Regions from separate parts of the Homo sapiens genome. Here region 2 is linked to region 1. A link means that fine-mapping ties the variant in region 1 to the plasma level of a protein whose gene starts in the linked region. Region 1 holds a variant in brackets. A gene starts in the other region. All regions are shown on their forward strands.

Region 1 (10,537 bases):
CCAGCACTTTGGGAGGTCGAGGCAGGCGGATCACCTGAGCTCAGGAGTTTGAAACCAGCCTGGTCAATGTGGTGAAACCTCGTCTCTAGTAAAAACACAAAATTAGCTGGGCATGGTGGCGCATGCCTGTAATCGCAGCGACTTGGGAGGCTGAGGCAGGAGAATCGCTTGAATCTGGGAGGCGGAGGTTCCCTGAGCCAGCCGAGATTGTGATTGCATTCCAGCCTGGACAACAAGAGTGAAACTCCATCTCAAAAAGCAAACAAAAAATAAAATAATAAAAATAAAGGCCAGGCACGGTGGCTCACGCCTGTAATCCCAGCACTTTGGGAGGCCGAGATGGGCGGAGAGGTCAGGAGATCAAGACCATCCTGGCTAACACAGTGAAACCCCGTCTCTACTAAAAATACAAAAAATTAGCCAGACGTGGTGGTGGGCGCCTGTAGTCCCAGCTACTCGCGAGGCTGAGACAGAAGAATGGTGTGAACCCGCGAGGCGGAGCTTGCAGTGAGCCGAGATTGCACCACTGCACTCCAGCCTGGGCGACAGAGCAAGACTCCGTCTCAAAAAATAATAATAATAAAAAACAAAAAAATAAAAATAAAATAAATAAAGATTGGGGACATTGGCAACAGTTGAACTAAAGATGGGAAACGGAGACTTGTGCCTTGGGGAGAGCTGAGTCTCCCCGCTGCATGGGTCTTGTGCCTTGAGGCTCTTGCTTTAATGTAGTATCTGACTACATTGGACAGGATGGTCCAAAGTAAGTCCCTGGGAGCCAAGCATTCAGCCACTCTCCAAAATACCATCTCTTCTGAAGCCAGCAAAGCTGGTGAGCCTGGAGCTAAGCAAGAAAACTGTTTAGCTTCCCTAAAGCAGGGAAATGGGACTCTAGTCCTGCCTCTATCCGTGTGGTGCTGTTTCCTTTGAAAGGGATAACAGAAAAGTGGGGGAAAAGATCCAGGAAGGAAAACGTGAATGAATCCTTTGGAAATGATTTGAGACAGCTAGAGCAGAAGACATTTGCTGGGTACCTGCTGTTTCCATGTTCTGTCCTGGGGCTGGAGATGAAAAAGCTGAGTTAGGCAGGCCTTGTCCCTGCATTCAAGGAGCTTGTAGAAGAGAAGGGAAGAGAGGGATGTGATGTGTAAGTGAGTATTTCACTGCAGCATAATGAGGTCCTAATAAGAATCTGAGCAGAGTGCAGAGGGAACTCGCAGGAGCAACTCTGGAAATTAGTTGAAAACAGCAGGATTCTAGCCTGGGAGCACTTCTAGAACTCTGCCAAGTTGGCCGTGGCCACTACCTTTGTTGGAAACAAAGCATAAGGGAGTGAAAGTGTCTAAAGAAAGGTGGGGGCTGGGTGCAGTGACCCACGCCTGTAATCCCAGCATTTTGGGAGGCCGAGGCAGGCAGATCACGAGGTCAGGAGATTGAGACCAGCCTGACCAATATGGTGAAATCTTGTCTCTACTAAAAATACAAAAATTAGCCGGGCATGGTGGTGCATGCCTGTAATCCCAGCTACTCAGGAGGCTGAGGCAAGAGAATCGCTTGAACCCAGGAGGCGGAGGTTGCAGTGAGCTGAGATCATGCCATTGCACTCCAGCCTGGGTGACAGAATGAGACTCCATCTCAAAAAAAAAAAAAAAGAAAGAAAAGAAACGTGGGTCAGGCATGGTGGCTCATGCCTGTAATCCCAGCACTTTGGGAGGCCAAGGTGGGTGGATCGCTTGAGTCCAGGAGTTCGAGACCAGCCTGGGCAACATGGTGAAACTCAGTCTCTACAAAAAATACAAAAATTAGCCGAGCATGGTGGCCCATGCCTGTAGTGTCAGCTATCCAGGGCGCTGAGGTAGAAGGATCACCTGAGCCAAGGGAGGTTGAGGCTTCAGTGAGCCATCAATCATCCTGCCACTGCATTCCAGCTTGGGTGGCACAGTGAGACACTGTCTCAAAAATAAAATAAAATAAAAGTAGCCAGGCGAGGTGGCTTATGCCTGTAATCCTAGCATTTTGGGAGGCCGAGGTGGGCGGATCACCTGAGGTCAGGGGTTCAAGACCAGGCTGGCCAACATGGTGAAACCCTGTCTCTACTAAAAATACAAAAATTAGCCAGGCATGGTGGCGCATGCCTGTAATCCCAGCTACCCGGGAGGCTGAAGCAGGAGAGTTGCTGGAACCTGGGAGGCGGAGGCTGCAGTGAGCCGAGATCGCACCACTGCACTCCAGCCTGGACGACAGAACAAGACTCCGTCTCAAAATAAATAAATAAATAAAAATAAATGTAGATCAGGATACGTATTGTCTTTTTTTGTTTGTTTTTTGAGACAGAGTCTCGCTCACTCTGGGTGCAGTGGCGCTATCTCGGCTCACTGCAAGCTCCGCCCCCCGGATTCATGCCATTCTTCTGCCTCAGCCTCCCGAGTAGCTGGGACTACAGGCACCCACCACCACGCCCGGCTAATTTTTTTGTATTTTTAGTAGAGACGGGGTTTCACCATGTTAGCCAGGATGGTCTACGATCTCCTGACCTCGTGATCCGCCCGCCTCAGCCTCCCAAAGTGCTGGGATTATAGGCATGAGCCACCGCGCCCAGCCAGGATGAATATTCTCTGAAAGAACAGTTTAAAGGATCCTGATAAACTAAGCTCTGTGAAGGCAGCAACCACGTCAGTTTCCTTAAACTTGAGCAATACTTAGAAGGCAGCAAGTGCACAAGAAATATGTGTTGCATGAATGAAAGAAGGAAGTGGGGGGGAGGAAGGAAAAGGAGGAAGTGAGCGAGGGCAGGAAGAAAAGGGAAGGAAGGGAGAGGAGAGAAGTGAAGGAAGGAAGAAAAGGTAGGAAGGAGGGAGGGAAGGAAAGAAGGAAGGATAAACATTGGCTTATATTATCAGAAGAGGTGGATGGCTATAACTTGAGACAAAACGTGGTTGATTTCTGACTATAGGTTGAATATCCATATGGGTTCTGGAGTCAGCAGATCTGAGTTGTGGTCCTAGTCCTGACTTGTCACTTGTGTGACCTTAGTAAGTCCTGGAACCTCTCTATGCCCCAATTTCTCACTTCTGAAATGGCAATAATAACTGATATCTCACCCTGTAGTGAGAATTAAGTAAATGATTGAATGTAAAAATTTGGCACAATCCTCACTTATAGTAGGTGCTCAATAAATATTAATTAGCTATATAAATGTCAACTTTGATGTAGCTGGAAAGAATTTGCCAAATATTTCATGTCAAGGTTATATAACTATTCCAAACTGAGGTATAATTTCTTTTTTTCTGATAAAGGCTAATTTTGAAAGTTCCTTGTGTCTGCAGACTAACGCACCTTAGAGAAATGGTTCTTTACTTTTTTTGGCGGGGAGTGGGGGCTGGTAGCAAGGAGCTTTTGAAATTAAATGAAAGCTCTGATTCCCTCTCTCCTGAAATGGCATCTCATTCTTGGCGTTCACAGCTCCCTGAAGCCCACCCGTGTGGTGAAGGGGGTCCCTGCTCTGCTGCACTGCTCACAGGCTATAGTGAAAGAACTCAGGCAGCATTCATAGAAGAGGTGGCTGGGAGGAGCAAGCAGGGTCAGCCGTCTTTCAAGGGGTTTGTGGAAACCAAAAGATGAGACGGCTAGAGATAAGCACATGTGGCCCCGTGGGTGCGTCCTCTTAGAGCCCACTCTCCTGCTAGGGCCAAGCTGGGGCTCACTCAGAACCTTGTGGGCTCCAGAGTCCCTGGTGTGGTGCCCACCAGCCGGACCCTCATTCACAGTGCATAAATGGTGCTGCAGGGTGGCTGCTGTGTGAGATTCCTATCCAGGCATGGATCTTTGGTGCCACCCTCACATCAGCTTTCTGTGAGTGTTGTCTCCTAATACCACTGCTTTAGGGTGGCAAGTGGGCACACTGCCACAGGTGGTGCATTCCTCAGAACCTCCACCCTGGCAAAGCAGGGTGAGAGTACAGCCTACAGAGCCTTAGGAGATCCGTGGCAACCCGTCTGTGCATCCCCGCTACCCACCTAGGCATACCTGTTCCTGCCCACTCTCTGGGATCAGCATCAGAACCAAGAGCAAGGCTCTGTCTGGGAGTAAGAGTGGCAGCCACCAGGTGACCTGAGGTGATGGGGAAACTCCAGGGTCAGAGAGCTCCTCCTCCCTGGGAAGGAAGAGGCAGAGGGGAGAGCCTTGGGCCTTTGGGAAGGAAGGTTGGTTTCCTGAGGTGGAGGGAGGGCCCTGGCCTGTTCCTTTTTCCCCTCACAGGGGTCTGGTGCTCAGACTGGGATTTTAGAGGGAATAACTCGATAGCAAATGGGGAGGTAGATTCCTCACTTCATGGGATCTTTGGAACCAGGGTGTGTGTCTGTGTGTGTCTGTGTGTGTCTTGCTCTGTGTCTGTGTCAGTGTCTTGCTCTGTGTGCATGTGTGTGTATGTGTGTGTGTCAGTGTCTTGCTCTGTCACCCAAGCTGGAGGTACCATCGTGACTCATTGCAGCCTCTACCTCTCAGGTTCAAGTGATCCTTGCACCTCAACCTTCCAAGTAGCTGGGACCACAGGAGCACACCACCACACCTGGCTAATTTTTAATTTATTTTTTGTAGAGACCGGGTCTTCCTATGTTGCCCATCTGGTCTCCCCTGGACAGGCGAGTGGGTGCAAAAGCAGAGGCAGACAGCGCCTCCTGAACTCATATTGGGGGAGCAGAGGAGTGACAGTGGCAACTTCATGTTCTACCCTGTCAGGGCAGGGACAGGTTGAGCCCTGCTGATTGCCCCACAGCCCTGTGGGGCGGAGGGATCCCCTCCCAGGGAGTGGCCAGCTCAGGCCCCAA[C/T]AGGCCCCAGTGGGGGTGGTGCTGGGTGTCAGGCTCCTCACCACAGCGGACGCACCTGGGACTTGGGCTGGGCGGGCCGGTTCTTTCTCCCCATGAGAGTTGCAGCCTCAGCACCAGCTTTGCAGGAGGTGGCTGAACTTGAGGGAGTACCCAGAAGGGGGTCCTCAGAGATGGGCATCTAAGATACTTCAGAGTTGTTGACGCCATGGGGCAACTTTCATGGGGAGGTGAACCAATAACATAGCAGGCATGGCCTTGCTCACTGAGCATTCACTACATGCCAGTGTTGCCCGTGGCTTTATATGTACTCTCTCCAGCCACCCATGAAGTGCTGTTCATAGCACTCCGTCCTAGATGAAGAAGCTGAGGTTCAGAGTGATTGTGTGGCTTGCTAAAAGTCCACAAAATATGGAAGGTAGTGAATTCTTCTGACAGAAGAACCTGTGTGCTCAACCACTGGATTCTACCACTTCCAGGAGCAAGAAAAACAAGAGGCCGGTAGCGGGGAAAATGGTTTGGGGAACGGAGATGAAGCCATTTATTTACATCTGTTGCCAGACCCTGGGTAAAAGCTGCCAGTGAGTTTTGAAGGCAGTGTAAGTGCTGACCCGGGGTGGATGCCCTCTGCTGCAGAAGGCGCTGCCCCAAGGAAGCTCCCAGCCCTGAGGACTTGGCAGCCATTGGCTGATTTGAAAGAATACACAGGGTGTGCCAGCTGGTGTCGCTTCCTCTTCAACATGTACTGATGCTGCAGCTGAGCTGCTGCCCAGCCCCTGGGGAGAAGACACCAGCAGCATGCCCAGCCAGGGCAGGGTGGAGAGCTGCAGCTGCAGGTTGGCATAAGAGGAGAGCTCAGGGCTACAAGGGGATGGTGGTGGGGGGCCAAGGCCTGGAGAGCTGGGCTGCAGCCAGTGTATGTCTGCGAGGCCTTGCTGGGCAGCCTGCCAGTCAGCACCCGAGAATGGGGAGGAGCTTGAGTGCTACCCCAGGAGGGGGCGGGTGGGACCTTTGGGTTCAAGCTCCACTGGGCTTGGCAGGAGGCCCCTCCCCCACAGCCAGCAAACAAAGCAACAACTCCCAGAGTAGAACTGTGGGAGCTCCAGAGCCAGGTTCCCCTGGGTGGGAATTAGAGCAGGCAGACCTGGCCAGGAGCCGCCTGGCAGGGACCATCCATGCCCAAGGACATGGCCTGCATGCAGCTGGGCAGAGGCTGTACCCATGGATGATTAATGGGTATTGATCACTTGGGAGGCCAGATGTAGCCTGGACACTGCTGGCACTTGCCCTGCATCTGTTCCCTTTGTACTGGGCAGGGTAGAGAAGCAGCAGGGATGTGTGTTCATTTGCTTTTTACTTTTAGCCATGCTTCCCTTTATTTTCTTTCCCTTGTAGCTTTTTTTTTTTTTTTTTTTTTGAGATGGAATCTTGCTCTTGTCACCCAGGCTGGAGTGCAGTGGCACGATCTTGGCTCACTGCAGCCTCCGCCTCCTGGGTTCAAGCAATTCTCCTGCCTCAGCCTCCCGAGTAGCAGGGATTACAGCCTCACGCCACCATGCCTGGCTAATTTTTGTACTTTTAGTAGAGATGGGGTTTTGCCATATTGGCCAGGCTGGTCTCAAACTCCTGACCTTGTGATCCTCCCGCCTTGGCCTCCCAAAGTGCTGGGGTTACAGGCATGAGCCACTGCGCCTGGCCTCGTTTCGGCCTCTTTATAATGGATTCCTATACACATTCTTGTGCTTCTGTCCTTGTGTATGTATGTGTGTGTGTATGAGAGAGAGAAAAATGAGGAAGGTCCATGGGGAGGAGGTGCCAGAGCGTGTGAGTGTGGATGGAGAAGAGGCCAGCTTTGATGATGACTTCATTTTGCTGGCCAAGGCACGGAGGAAGCAGTGCTTTTCTCTTCGTCTCTTATTTTGGTACTCCCTTTCCAAGCTGCCTCCTGAGCTCTTTATAAACACTGGCATTCTGGCTGAGAAAGACTCGCCAACATCCAAGAGTGGCAAAGGGGAACAGGAGACACATCGTTGGCTTGGGAACCGCTCCCGCTCGCAGGAAGTCTGCTCACAGGAGATTTTTCTCTGTCAGTGTCCTCGTGTGGTTTCTAGTCTGGGGAGAACACATCAGCACACTAACGGAAGAAAGGGGAGCCCGCAAAGACCAAAGCTGCTGTGCTGGGGGCGTGGATTCGAGGGCTCTTCTCCAGGCTGACAGCTGGGACCCTCATTTTGTCAGCCCTGTGGAGTTCCTACTAGAGTGCCATGCAAGGCAGTGGGGATTTGGAAGATGGAAGTCCTGTCACTGTCCTCAAAGGACTTGCTGCCCAGTCGACATAAGACATATTGGAAGCATTTGAGCAGGATATGATTATCCGCTTAGTGAGGCCGCATCAGCCCCTGTCTCCTCTGCTCTGAGATGAGCACAGCAGTCACACAACTCATGTGTTGCCAAGACACCAGGGCAAAGCAGCCCCACTGCCATTTTAGGATCTGCTTGATGTGGAGATTCAGGGACTCAACAAATAGTGATTGAGCATGTGGCCAACATCAGGTACTGTTCTAGGTGAGTGCAGTAGGCAGAAGGTAGAAGAAGGAAATGTAGCTAGTACCTTGACTTTGACAAGATTTCTTGCAATCTTTTTCATAATATTCTTTTTTTTTTTTTGGGTTGGTCGGGGGGACGGAGTTTCACTCTTGTGCCCAGGCTGGAGCACAGTGGCGCCATCTTGGCTCACTACAACCTCTGTCTCCCGGGTTCAAGCGATTCTCCTGCCTCAGCCTCCTGAGTAGCTGGGATTATAGGTGTGCACCACCACGCCCGGCTAATTTTCATATTTTTAGTAGAGACAGCGTTTCATCATGTTGGCCAGGCTGGTTTCGAACTCCTGACCTCAGGTGATGCGCCCACCTCAGCCTCCTAAAGTGCTCAGATTACGGGCAATGAGCCACTGCTTTCAGCCCATAATAGTCTTATGGATAATATGGAGAAATGTGGGCTGAACAGTGCAGTTAGGAGGACACATAGCTAGTTGTTCAGCCTATAAAAGATATTGATCAGGCCAGGCGTGGTGGCTCACACCTGTAATCCCAGTACTTTGGGAGGCCAAGGCAGGTGGCTCACCTGAGGTCAAAAGTTCGAGACCAGCCGTGACCAACATGGTGAAACCTCGTCTCTACTAAAAATACAAAATTAGCCGGGCGTGGTGGCGCATGTTTGTAATCCCAGCTACTCGGGAGGCTGAGGCAGGAGAATCGCTTGAACCCACGAGGCAGAGGTTGCAGTGAGCTGATATCATGCCATTGCACTCCAGCCTGGGCAACAAGAGTGAAACACCATCTCAAAAAAAAAACAAAAAACATATTGATCTGTTCTAACCTTGATGGAGGTCTCTAGTGGCGTGCCATTGGGCTCCGTTTGTGACTCTGTCTCACCCATTTATTTATTTACTTACTTATTTTCAGGCTCCCAAAGTGCTGGGATTATAGGTGTGAGCCACCGTGCCTGGCTGTCACCCATTTTTGTTTAATCACTCAAAATTTTAAATGGAAAGATTAGTACAAAAACACCCAATAACTCTTCACCTATATTGACCAGTTTTTGCCAGTCACATTCATGTTCTTTCTCTCTAGTACATGCACATACATATATATGCACATTTGTTTTTGCTGAATCATTTGAAAGTAAGTTGTAGACATCGTGACATTTCAACTGTAAAGCTTCAGCAGGTGTCTCTGAAAGACCAGGACTTAATCACATCTGAGAAATGCCATTATCATAGCTAAAAAAATGAAGAATGCCATAATATCATCTAATACACAGTCCATATTAAAATTTCCCCAATTGCTCCATGGCTTTTTTTTTTTTTCCAACATTCAATCTTCAATCAAGGTTCACACGTTGCTATTGATTTTGTTTGTTTTTTTTTAGACAGGGTCTCATTCTGTCTCTTAGGCTGGAGTGCAACAGCATGGCTCCCTGCAGCTTTGACCTCCTGGGCTTAGGTGATCCTCCCACCTCAGCCTTTCAAGTAGCTGGGACTACAGGTGCGCACCACCATGCCTGAGTAATTTTGTATTTTTTGTAGAGACCAGTTTCACCCTGTTGCCCAGGATGGTCTTGAACTTCTGGGCTCAAGTGATCCACCTGCCTTGGCCTCCCGAAGTGCTGGGATTACAGGTGTCAGCCACCTCGCCTCGCTGCATTTGATTATTATGTCTTTTTAGTCCCTTAACCTAAAACAGCCCCACCCCTGTCTGTTTTGCCTCTCACTAGATTGCCCTTTCTGAAGAGTCCAGGCTAGTTGTCTTGTAGAATACTACTCATGCTGGATGGGTCTGATTGTGTTTTCATTGTTAGATCTGGGTTACAACACACCTTTGAGAAGAATGCTGCAAACATTGATGATGTTTTGTACTTGTTGTTTTTTCTTTTTTTGAGACAGGGTCTCACTTTGTCACCCAGGCTGGAGAGCAGTGGCGTGATCTCAGCTCACTGCACCCTTGACCTCCTAGGTTCAAGCAGTCCTCCTGCCTCACCCCCCGAAGTAGCTGGGACTACAGGCATGCGCCACCATACCTGGCTAATTTTTGTAATTTTTGTAGAGACGGAGTTTTGCCGTGTTGCCCAGGTTGGTCCCGAACCCCTGAGCTCAGGCAGTCTGCCTGCCTCGGCATCCCAAAATGCTAGGATTCCAGGCGTGAGCTGCTGGGCCCAGCCTGTTTTGTACTTCTCTTTTTTTTTTTTTCGAGACGGAGTCTCGCTCTGTCACCAGGCTGGAGTGCAGTGGCGCGATCTCGGCTCACTGCGAGCTCTGCCTCCTGGGTTCACGACATTCTCCTGCCTCAGCCTCCCAAGTAGCTGGGACTACAGGCGCCCGCCACCATGCCTGGCTAATTTTTTTTTTTTTTTGTATTTTTAGTAGAGACGGGGTTTCACCGTGTTAGCCAGGATGGTCTCGATCTCCTGACCTCGTGATCCGCCCGCCTCGGCCTCCCAAAGTGCTGGGATTCCAGGCGTGAGCTGCTGGGCTTAGCCTGTTTTGTACTTCTTATTGCATCATATCAGGAGGAAAATTACGTCAAATAGTCCCATTACTATGATGCTACTTTTGTCTAATTGGTTAAGATTGAGGCCCCGAGATCTCTCCCTTAGAGATAAATGTTCCCTTTGGTAATTAGTAAGTCATCTGTGGGACAGACCTTGTTAACATATAGTTTCGTAACAATCTTCCACCCAATGGTTTCCCATCCACTGATGATTCTTACTTGAATCTAGATTTTCTAATTCTATCACCATTTCTTCTACTTTTTTTTTGAGACAGAGTCTCGCTGTCGGTCAGGCTGGAGTGCAGTGGCGTGATCTCGGATCACTGCAACCTCCGCCTCTTGAGTTCAAGAGATTCTCCTGCCTCAGCCTCCCGAGTAGCTGGGACTACAGGTGCGTGCCACCACGCCCAGCTAATTTTTTTGTATTTTTAATAGAGACGGGGTTTCACCATGTTAGCCAGGATGGTCTCGATCTCCTGACCTCGTGATCCGCCCGCCTCAGCCTCCCAAAGTGCTGGGATTACAGGCGTGAGCCACTGCACCCGGCCTCTTCTACATTATTAACCAGCATTTTTTGGTAAAGAAAAGCTTCCTTTTCACCCCTTATTTTTTCTCTCTCTCTGGGTTTCACTGTGGACTAATGGATTGTTTTTAAATTTAATGTAT
Region 2 (10,537 bases), not on the chromosome of region 1:
AGACCAGGGCAGGAGTGTACCTGGCAGGGAAGGGCATTACTCTCTGCAAAGGAGAAGTACATCCACAGCCTCCCATGCACAACATAAGCCTCCTCCCCACCACCCAACACCCACCAAATATTTCAAGGCTCATCAAAGAGACCAGGATCACAAACCCAAATCCCTATTTGGGTTAGGCCCATAACATAAGCAAGTAAAGAAGCAGGGTATGAGGCAGTAGGAAGAAATGGAGACCGTGACAAACTTGAGAGCAATGCTCCATCTGAAATTTGCAGCTGATGCTCAGCTCTAGCCGATTGTGGCCATGTTGGGATGTGTGCTCAGTGTTGCCAGAGCCTTCCCTTTTTTTTTCAAGATAAATCTTCATTTTTATGTGAAATTTTCCAACCTTGTAACACTTTAAGCACACCAAAGAAAGAGGTCTGTGAACTGGGTGTAGCCCACAGGCCCCCTTCACCTGTCATGTCATGCTGCCCCAGGGATGTCCCCTGCCCCTGACCCTCCGCTGGCTCTTATTCCATCCCTGTTATGTTATTTGCTTCTTTGCTCTTGTCTCCCCTTCTGGTCTTCTCTGCACGCTCTTTCCCCCTGTGTCACATCTTTCTGTTCTTTCCCGTCTTTGGAGTACATTCAGATGAATTTATGCTCAGGGTGGGGAATGAGGCGGGTGCGGGTGAGAATTGGGCTCTGGCATAGCATTCTATTATGTAACCACAGACCACATCCCCCACTGCAGCCAAATGGTTTGCAGAAGCAAGCTTTTGGTCGCAAGGGACATAAGACAAGACATTTTGAAGGAACAGTGGAAACCCACTATCCACTCTGGGCTTTAAGGGTGATAACAGAGTCTTTGTTCGATTTGAGGTTCCTGAGGTTTGGATTTCACGAACGCTGGGTTCAGAGGTCATACTGTGGGTTACAGAGAATGTCAAGATCAGAGTCAGAGTTACCATCAGCATCAGAATTTGTATCAGTGAGGAAACTGAAACCTAATTTGGACCAGGGTTGGGGTTAGTTAGGTTAAGAACTACAGTTAGGATTTGGGCTTGAGTTAAATTAGTTGATAAATTAACAATTTTGTATTGATATTTGGGTAAGGAATAGGAATAGACTTAAGATGACATTCGGGGTTGAGGAATGTGTCAGGATGAGAAAAAGATGAATAATCCCTGTTTTGTTTGGGGGCTTGGTTCTGGTTATGATTCAATACAGGTGTAGTATCTTAATTTAAGCCTGGAGTGGGTTAGAGCTTAAATATTAGAGGTTGGGTTTGGTTACCAGTCCCTAGTATTGGATTCTGGGATTAAGGTTGATACTTTGTCTAATGAGGGACAGCATAGCAGAGAGGTCAAGAACCTAGACTCTGGCGCCAAACTGCTTGAGGCTGGAATTCTGGTTCTACTGCTTTCTAGCTATGTGATCTTGGGCAAGTTATTTGAACTTCTGTGCGTTGGTTTTCGTATCTGTAAAAGTGGGATGATAATGGAGCCTATCTCATAGAATATTTGTAAGAATTAAATGAGTTAATATATGTAAAGCACTTAGGACAGCAAGTGACACATAGTAGTACCATAGAAGTATTTGTTAGGTGAATAAACGGTGGCAATATTTCATGCCCATCTTCCAAGTGACAAGTGTTCAGACTGGCTGGAGCAGTCTTCCCTGTGTTGTGGCCCCGTCGACACACTTAATCTAGCTGACACTCTCCCAGGGTTTCAACAGGGCCATCCCTTGGGCTGGGTTGTCAGCACATCTGTGTTGCTGGTTTCCTGGCTGACTTCATCACTACAGGTCTGTATTCTTTACATCAGAGAGGCATTGGGTCAAGGTTAACCCGGGTCCTCAGACAACTTCACATTGTCAGGCCTCCAAGGTGGGCAGGAAGGCAGGTTTCCAGTCCCTAAAAGAGACCAGGCCCAAGGCCACTTGTTCCTTCAAGCCGGCAGGAACTCCTCTTGAATGTTAAATGATGCTCCCTTGGAGCCTGAATGCAAAGACCTTAAGGAGAAATTTTCAGCCCATCAGCTCCCTGCTCAGTCAGCCTGGCAGTACACCCAGAATCCAAAGGGAGAGAATTCAGGCAAATCAGGGCAATGTTTTTAATGGGCCAAATCAGCAGAGTCCAGGGAAAGAATTCACTTCATTCCAGCAGCTGGCACCAGTTGAGAAGGGTTGCAAGCGAGCAGTCAGCTGGACGTGCAGGAGAGCACCCCCGCCGGCCCAAGCTGAGTGGGCTTTTTCATCTCTGCTCAAGAACTTTGTCTCCAGCAAGAGCCCCATGCCAGCACTTTCTCACATTTCTCTGTGCACTTAGTCTGCTTCAAGGTGACCTTGGGATTTGACAGTGGAGTGCAGGGGTGGGAGGAACTTTTCCTCATAGGCACTTTGCTGTGACATTCTGGGGACACTCTGATGAGTAACTAGTCACCCTAACAACTCACTCCAGCATCCCCACACTGCACCATTAACACCAACACTCTGAGTAAGCCTTGCTCCCCAAGCCAGGTGCCTGAATCACTGCTGTAGTAACCTGTGCCTCTTGTTCCTCTGCCTCACCTCTCTGACTCTCTGCCTTTCTTCATCTGAGCCTTTCCTCTCTCGGGTTCAGATTCTCCCTCCATTCCCCCAAGAAATGCTCAATTTCTCTGCACTTTCTAAGACTTCAATATGCCAGAACAGCCACTCCCTATCCATACTGGCCATCAAGGAAGCTTGGTCCCAAGCCTGGGTGGACACAGTGTCCCTGTACACTGGTGCTCAGCCCCTCTGATGACTGGGACATCCTACACATCTGTACCGTTAGAAGGCCCCAGATGCTGTTTCCATGGAGACCTAGTCAACCAAGAAGCCTCACCCCTTGGACTAGCTTCCTGCCTCCATTCACAACCAAAAAAATCAACCAAGGTTCTCCACAGACATCCAGCTCATAAAGGAGGACCTGAGGCTGTCAGTGATTCCCCATGTGATTCATATTCTTGCCTCTCAGTTCTGAGATGTTGGGATAGTATCAACAAGTGCAGAGCCTCTTCCCTGCCACCTTAGGAAGCCTCATACACTTGACCTCACTTCCCCATCGATCCCACAGCCAAAGCAGATACTGCCCTCCGACCTAGCAGCAAGAGCTCCACCTGCACTTCTAAAGCCACTGCTACCTCTGCCCCCCAGGGACCAAATATCCAGAGTTGCTCTCCTTCCCTAAGGCTGGAATATGCCAAGCCCGCTGGCCACCCCTACACATTAAGCCCCCAAGTTCCACCTTCCTCCCAACCAACAGGGCTGAGGCTGGTGGCTCCCAGGCCCACCCTCATGCTCTCCCACTGCCTCTCCACCCACTAGGGCCCAGGCAGAGCTGGTTTCTGGTAAGATGCACTATCTCATCCATGGTTGGGAGGCACAACTTCCTCTTCCAGGGGTTTTCCACTTAGAAATCCCATAAGGGTCTCCTTTCCACAACCCAGTTGGAAATGACCCCAAGCGGAAGTTTCTCCCAAGAAAATTTATAGTCATAATCATAGCGAATTTCCAGTTCACTGAGATCTCACTTTGCACCAGGTGCTTCTCATACATTATTTCATTTAATCCTTTCCACAGTCCTACACAGGAGCAACCCAGTGGAAGGATTCTTTCTCCTGTGGGCAGAGGAGGATTCTCCCCACACTCCTCAGCTCAGCCCCTCCCTTGGCACTCCTTCCCACCCACCCACTAGCTACCAATTAACCCATCAGCACCAGCATTTTGCACAGTTACTAAACAGGAACATGGTCCTGTTCCTCTGCCAGTCCCATCCCCTGGACCTCTCATAACTGTGGGCCAGGTCCCTTCTGTATTCTTCAATTCTCCTAACACTGCAACAGAGATCCATTCCTCTGACCCCTGTACAGCCCCAGATAGGACGAGGCCCACCTCCTGGTCAAAGGTCCTTTCAGTTTCCTCCTAAGCCTGCCCACCTCCTAAGGCTCTACCCAAAGTAACATCACACCCTAAACAACCTCACCTGTCACCAGGCAGTGGAAGGAGTGACCAAGGGCAGCCAGGCCACTCAGACCCCATGGACACCAGCCCTAGCTTTATTCCTTACAGTGGCCCCAGACAACAAAATCTTGGGGAGATCAAAAGTCAGGCTGGACTAAGGGATATTTGGGGCTGATCCTCCAAGGTGTCAAGAAGGGAATTCCATGAAATCAGACCATCAGCCCTGCAACTCTCTCCACATAGTCCAGTCCATTCCGGGACCAACGCCTGCACCCTCAGACAAGGACAACCCAAAAGTGCTCTGCGGCTTTAGGACAGAGCTCACCCTCCCTTGTCCCACGGCCCTGCCCTCTACCAAGTTCTCCAACTCTCTGCTTCTTTAGGCAAGATCCCGCCCCACCAGCAATCCCATGCCCGCCAGATAGTGACTTACCAGCCCAGGCCAGGCCACACAGCACGGCCAATACCAGGGAGATGCAGGCCCTCATGGTGCCCAGTTGGAGGCCAAAAAGGGAGTGGCTGTTGGACTTTCACTAGAGTCAGATGAATGTCACAGCTCTCAGACGAGCCTTATTCCTCAAGCTGATCCTTTTAAAGACACCAGGACTTGTGGAGCTGGTGTCTCCAGATCCTTTCAGGAAGAAAAAGGGGAGGGAGGGACCCTAGATGGATAGGAGGTGGGGCCCTACAGCTGTTTGAAGCCTGAGGGAAGGTGACTAAGAAGGTAGGTAATGCCAGATGTTGAGAACAGGTAATGCTAGCTGTTTGCAGCTTAAAAAATAGGTCATGCAGGCAGGCACACCAAGATGGGTCCAGTTTGGAGGGTTCTTTGTCCAAATTAGGGACACCCATGGGCTGATCTTTGGGTGATCCCCACCAAACAGACACCTACTTCCAAGTCTCAGACCTGACTTTCCAAGGGGCCACAGGTTGGATTCATCTTCAAATTCCTGGAGCTTAGCATGACACTGGCACACAGTAAGGTGATTGGTCCAAATTTGACAAACAGTAAGTGCCCAAGCAAGGGTTGGGGTCATTGGACAGAGAGATAGAGGATGTGTCGGTCAGAACCAGTGCTATTCTTATGACCACCAAGCCCAGCATAGCTAAATCAGCCACATGTCGAGCGCATGGCTAAATCACTCTAAAATATTATGCAAATGACTCTTACTGAGTCAGCCTCTGGGGTTTAAACGTTTCAGATTCCTTATGAGGCAGGGGAGGGGCAAGAGGCCTCTTAAAGGCAGCCGAAGGCCCACTCTTCTTCCCCTGGGAGCCCAGGGTTTCACTCCCTTCACCCCAACTTACACTCCTCTCCTCAGGAACTCCTCCCCAGTGAGGTTCTTTTGTTTCCAAGTCCAAAAGAAGGGGAGCAGCTCCCCGTGACTGTCCAGTTTTCCCCGATAATAAAGGTAAAATCTGCCAAGTATGATGCCCTTGCCAGAAAGAGCACTGCATGGGGATTCTCAACCCTCTCAGGAAAGAAAACTATCATATAAAAAGGCAAAATTGGTGAACAGTGGAGGCCACTCTATCAGTGATTTTTTTCTGGAGGTTGGGAGTGGAGCACGTCTTCATCCAGTGTGCTTTAACAGGAGAAGTTTCTTCCTCTCGCTGGTCTTCAGCTTTCTCATCTGAAATGATGGGGTTGGATCTGACAATCCCTTCCAGGTTCTCAGACTTTAATCTCGAGTTTTCCTGCCCATGCGCCAGGTTGAACAGTTGCTGGTGGGTTAAAGAGAATCCCCCAGCCTGTTGCTGTGTAGAGAGGAGTCCAAACATAGGGACTCAGGGGTAGAGAGAAGGACAAGCCTAGGGCAAGCAAACTTTGCAAGGGGCTCACACAGGAAGTGCAATGTATGTATATATTTTGAGATGGAATCTCTCTCTCTGTCGCCCAGGCTGGAGTGCAGCAGTGTGATCTCGGCTCACTGCAACCTCCATCTCCCCAGCTCAAGCAATTCTCATGCCTCAGCCTCCCGAGTAGCTGGGATTATAGGCATGCACCACCACACCTGGCTAATTTTTGTATTTTTAGTAGAGACCATGTTGGCCAACCTGATCTCAAACTCTTGACCTCAGGTGATCTGCCCACCTTGGCCTCCCAAAGTGCTGGGATTACAGGTGTGAGCCACTGCATCCAGCCCGGAAGCACAACTAAAGAGTGAGCCTAGCCCTTCTCTCCCAGAAGGGAGCTGGTTAGAATGAGTAAGAGCAGAAATGGCTGCTTCATTTGCATAGATTTCATTTACACAATCCAAAAGCAGGCTGAAGAGTCACTGCCCCTCAGAATCCTCATCCTCCCTGGGTTGGCACCACATAAACGTGTCTCTGACTCCTGTTGTTTAGGGGACAAAGGAGGGTGTCACTGGCTGGCCTGGGAAGCAATGATGCCTCAGAATTTGGGAATGAATGGTCTGTCCCTTCCAAGTGTCCAGCTGGGTGGACCCTAGCTGAAGCCAAAGCTGTCAGAGTGGAGTACAGCCTGGCTAGGTTCTCCTAGTGTCCAGCTGAACTGGCCATGGGATGGTGTTTTGAGGGCAGGAGCTCTCCCCCCATTAATGGAATTTTAGGTCAGGAGCAAGGATTGGAGCTGGGGAAGACAGTTAAGGATGACTCCATAGAGCCAGATGGTTCATCTGAGTACCCAAGTGTTTAAAACTGCATCCTTCAATAAGAATAACAGCCTTAACAACCACCAGCAACATTGACTGAGCACTTACCACGTGTGTTATCATATGTGTTATCTCATTGATTCTCACTACAACCTTAATAGGTACTATTGCTGTCCTCATTTTACAGATGAAGAAACTGAGGCACAGAAAGGTTAGGAGACGTGCCCAGAAGCACACAATCATTAAGTTATGCAGCTGTGCCTCAACCCAGATCCATCTGACCAGGGGTCATTCTCATAAGCACCGTTGCTCCATTGCCCCACAACATCACACTTTGAACGACCACTTAATCATGTCTGGTTACTATACAAAGCAGTCTAGATTTAAATTCACTGGAATTAAAGGGACCTCAACTGCCATCTAGTTCCACTTCTCATAGGATGTCACAACTCCCTAAACAACCCTAAGTGCTTGTCCTGCCTCTCCTTCATTGCCTCTGGTGCTGAGGGTTGAGGGGTGGGGAATTGGGATATGCCCTCCCACGGCTGCTCATACGCCCTCTTCGCAGATCGGATTCCCAAACCCCAGATTTTATAACCGAAGACATGCTGACAAAGGCAGAAAAAATCCATTAAGCCAATAAATGAAAATATATCAATACATATTCATGCAAAGATGCCTCATAAACTTAGATGTCCATGTATGTGTGTATACACACACACACACACACACACACACACACACAAAAAGAGAGAGAGAGAGAGAGAGAGAGAGAGAGAGATACATTAAGATAGATTTCAGGCAGCTTTCTCTTCCCTGCTAGCCTGTTGTGGACCAAGAACTCTGCGGCTCCTCTTTCTGAGTACCCCCCGCCATTAGGTACTCACATGGGCTTTCCATCCTTGCAGACTTCCCAAGAAGCCACAGTGGGACCAGCCAGCAAGTTGGGAATTGTGGTAGGCTGGGTCCTGGAGAGCTGGGGTAGGGAGAGAGTGGAGGGAGATGCATGGTGGATGGTGTCTCAATGATGAGAATAGCGACAGAGATGGTGCAGTTGTGTCCTCTGTGGAGGTCTGGAGAGTGGGGAAGAGGGTGAGGCTGCTTGGGCAAGGATTTGGGAGGCACTCAGCTGTGAGAGACATAGAGGGTGGGAATTCCATCAGCCAAATATTTATCGAGTGCTCACTACACATCAGGGGCTATGCTGTTATTGGACTGGCAGGGTTCAGGCTAGGCTGGAAAACTCTTCCTGGAACTGATTGGTTTCTGGTGGGACAGAAGCCAGATAAGCCTCAGCATTAGGGCATTGTTTGAAGTAGGCCTCATTCATCTCTGGGCTACCACAGGTGTCTGGGGTCTGTCAGGATCAACAGGCCTTGAGAGAGACTGACCCAGAGGACTACTAAAAGGGACACCTGCCCAGGCCAGCCTATTCTACCATCCTCGTTCTCCTGCAAAACCAAGGCCACGTCATTTCAGCAGAGGACCTGCGTGTGGAAGGACCCTGCAGCTGGCCCATCACAGGAGAGGCCCAGACTCACCTCCCAAGGGGACCCTGGCACATGAAGATGCTGGTTCTCCTGGGAGTGCTGCCCTGGCCCACAGGATAGAAGCGCAGGATGGTCACCCATGTCTGCTCTTATTGAATGTGTCTTAGAAGCGGCTCCATGTGTGATTTCTTTCCCACATTGGTTAGTATGGTGTATACCACGTTTGTGTTCCCAGGCTTTTGTTTAAGTTTGTGGGCAGCCCTGACATCAGCATCACACTCAATGCCTGGGCTGAGCATATCCGTCAGACCTCCCAACTAGGCCCACTCATCACATAGTCCCATGCTGCACTTCTAGTTCTGCCAGCCACACCCCATGCTGGTCCTCAGCCTGGAACACCCTCCCCCACCCTCCCTGCTCAGCTGTCCAGCTCCTACTCATCCTCCGGCCCCAGGGCAAATTCACTCTTCCACAAAGCCTGACCTCTCTTCAGCCCACAGGATCTCTCCTGCCTAGGAGCTTGGTTGTGCATATTTGTCCTGTGTGCCTTTGACACAGCACAGTCATCTCTGACTGCCAACATCTGTTGCTGCCAACATGGTATCAGTTAACCCCTGCACTGCCATTTAACTTTTCCTCTGAAGTTCTTTGAGAAGGGGACCCTGCCTCATGGGCCCTTTGTATTGCCATCCAATGTGTGTTAGAATCTAAACAGTTAGATAATTATCAACCTGTGCCTGAGACCTGCAATGAATCAATATGTAAATGAATCAGGGCACTGGTCAGTCTTCCAGCCCCACTTGATATTAAAGACTCAGTGAAGATGGTTAGCAAAGCAGAGGACAGCAAATGGGTCTCCGGCAGCTGTGAAGCACCAGAGTTTATCCAAAGGGGGGACGTGGGGTCTAGAGACTCATCTCAAAGTTGCATTTTCATAACAAATACACTGGGTTTTTTTTTTTTTTAGCTATATTGTGTATTTGTTGGGGCCTAATGGAAATTTAGGAGGACCTAAACCCCCAAGCCACCCTTGGCACCACCCCTACAAGGGGCAGCCACCACAGGGACTGGACAGTTCCAGCAGTTTCTGAATCCACAGTGTCACAGAGATCTCAGCTGTATCCTGCTTTTTTAGGATCCCAAAGGAACCATCTGCCTACACTCTTTGCCAGCTGTGCTAATGTTTGTTTTACACTGCCCAGTAATGATTATAAAATTACTATTGCATGTCCTCAAACTCCACTGGCTTTAAAGAGGGTCTAGAGGCACAATGAGAACAAGGAGATGTGGGCAAGACAGGCAGACAGCGATAAGGAGGTTCAGAGAGACAGCGAGGGAGTGAGTAAGGGCGAGATCAAGAGAGAGACAGGCCCGAGGCCAACCCGCAGCTGACCGCTGGCGTGAGGAACATGGGCTGCCTCTCGCCCCAGGTATGTTGGCACAGCTGGGCTGTTCTGGCCTCAAAGATGATGACAGGACAACAGGACTGGCAGGAGCGGTTCCTGACCCATGATTTGAAATCTACAATCTGTCAAAATTACCATAATTATTGTGCTAAGGTAGTTGGGTTATGGGAAATTCCCCCTTTCTCATTCATTCCTTCATTCACCTGACAAATAGCACTTGAATGCCACTGTGTGCCAGACACTGTGATAAGCAAAGTGGATAAAGGGTGAGCAGCTCAGCAGCTGGAGAGAAAGAAAGACATAAATAAAGAGCGTCTACAGCCAGATCTGGGCAGCAGGACATGAGGCTCAGACTGTTGATTCTAAAGCCAAGCTGCCTGGGTTTGAATCCCAGCTCTGCCACCCACCAGCTGTACAATCCTGGGCAAGTTCCCTGACCCCTCTGTGCCTCAATTTCCCCCGTAGATCTAAAATAGAACAAGTAAGAGTACCTTAGAGGGCTATGGTGAGGATTGAATAAGTTAATCCTTGCAGAGGTTTTAGAACAGTGCCTAATAAATAAGGCCAGATGTTTGTTGTTAAAAAAAAAAATAGGGCCACGAAGGGCGTAATTTAGATAGGATGGTTAGGAAAAGCCTGAAAAATGAATGTTAACAATGTTCTGTGGCTGGGCGCGGTGGCTTACGCCTGTAATCCCAGCACTTTGGGAGGCCGAGGCAGGCAGATCACCTGAGGTCAGGAGTTCAAGACCCGCCTGGCCAACATGGTGAAAACCCATCTCTACTAAAAATACAAAAAGTAGCTGGGCGTGGTGATGCACATCTGTAATCCCAGCTACTTGGGAGGCTAAGACAGGAGAATCGCTGGAACCAGGGAGGTGGAGATTGCAGTAAGCCAAGATCTCACCACAGCACTCCAGCCTGGGCAACAGAACAGGACTCCGTCTCCAAGAAATAAAAATAAAAAAAATACAAAGAAAAGTGTTCTGGGCTGGGCGCAGTGGCTCATGCCTGTAATCCCAGCACTTTGGGAGGCCAAGGCAGGCAGATCACGA

Alleles and levels. Alleles are on the strand shown, and positions count from the first base shown. The strength of an association depends on the size of the effect and on how common the allele is.
In carriers of allele T in region 1, the plasma level of the protein whose gene starts at base 4,537 in region 2 tends to be lower than with C alone (moderate association).

The links. PIP is the chance, under the fine-mapping model, that this variant and not a neighbour inherited with it causes the effect. Protein levels are from antibody-based Olink assays in UK Biobank. Linkage for the fine-mapping came from a reference panel and not from the study's own genotypes, which makes the PIPs less certain.
Region 2: it holds the start of ENDOU, and the variant in region 1 is fine-mapped to the plasma level of the ENDOU protein (UK Biobank, PIP 0.94).

The regions. Positions count from the first base shown.
Region 1 is chr15:90,186,368-90,196,904 of GRCh38, forward strand. It overlaps a transcript of SEMA4B not described here. Among named protein-coding and RNA genes, the nearest start is that of SEMA4B, 9.7 kb to the right of the region's middle. RefSeq lists enhancers at 4,975-5,064, 5,265-5,564, 5,865-5,964. The variant C/T (reference allele first, on the strand shown) is at 4,827.
Region 2 is chr12:47,720,954-47,731,490 of GRCh38, forward strand. ENDOU (endonuclease, poly(U) specific) reads right to left here and starts at 4,537. Exons shown (of 10, transcript NM_001172439.2): 1 at 4,406-4,537. The coding sequence starts at 4,460. RPAP3-DT (RPAP3 divergent transcript) reads left to right here. Exons shown (of 4, transcript NR_183480.1): 4 at 7,934-10,537. RefSeq lists silencers at 5,052-5,171, 6,137-6,196.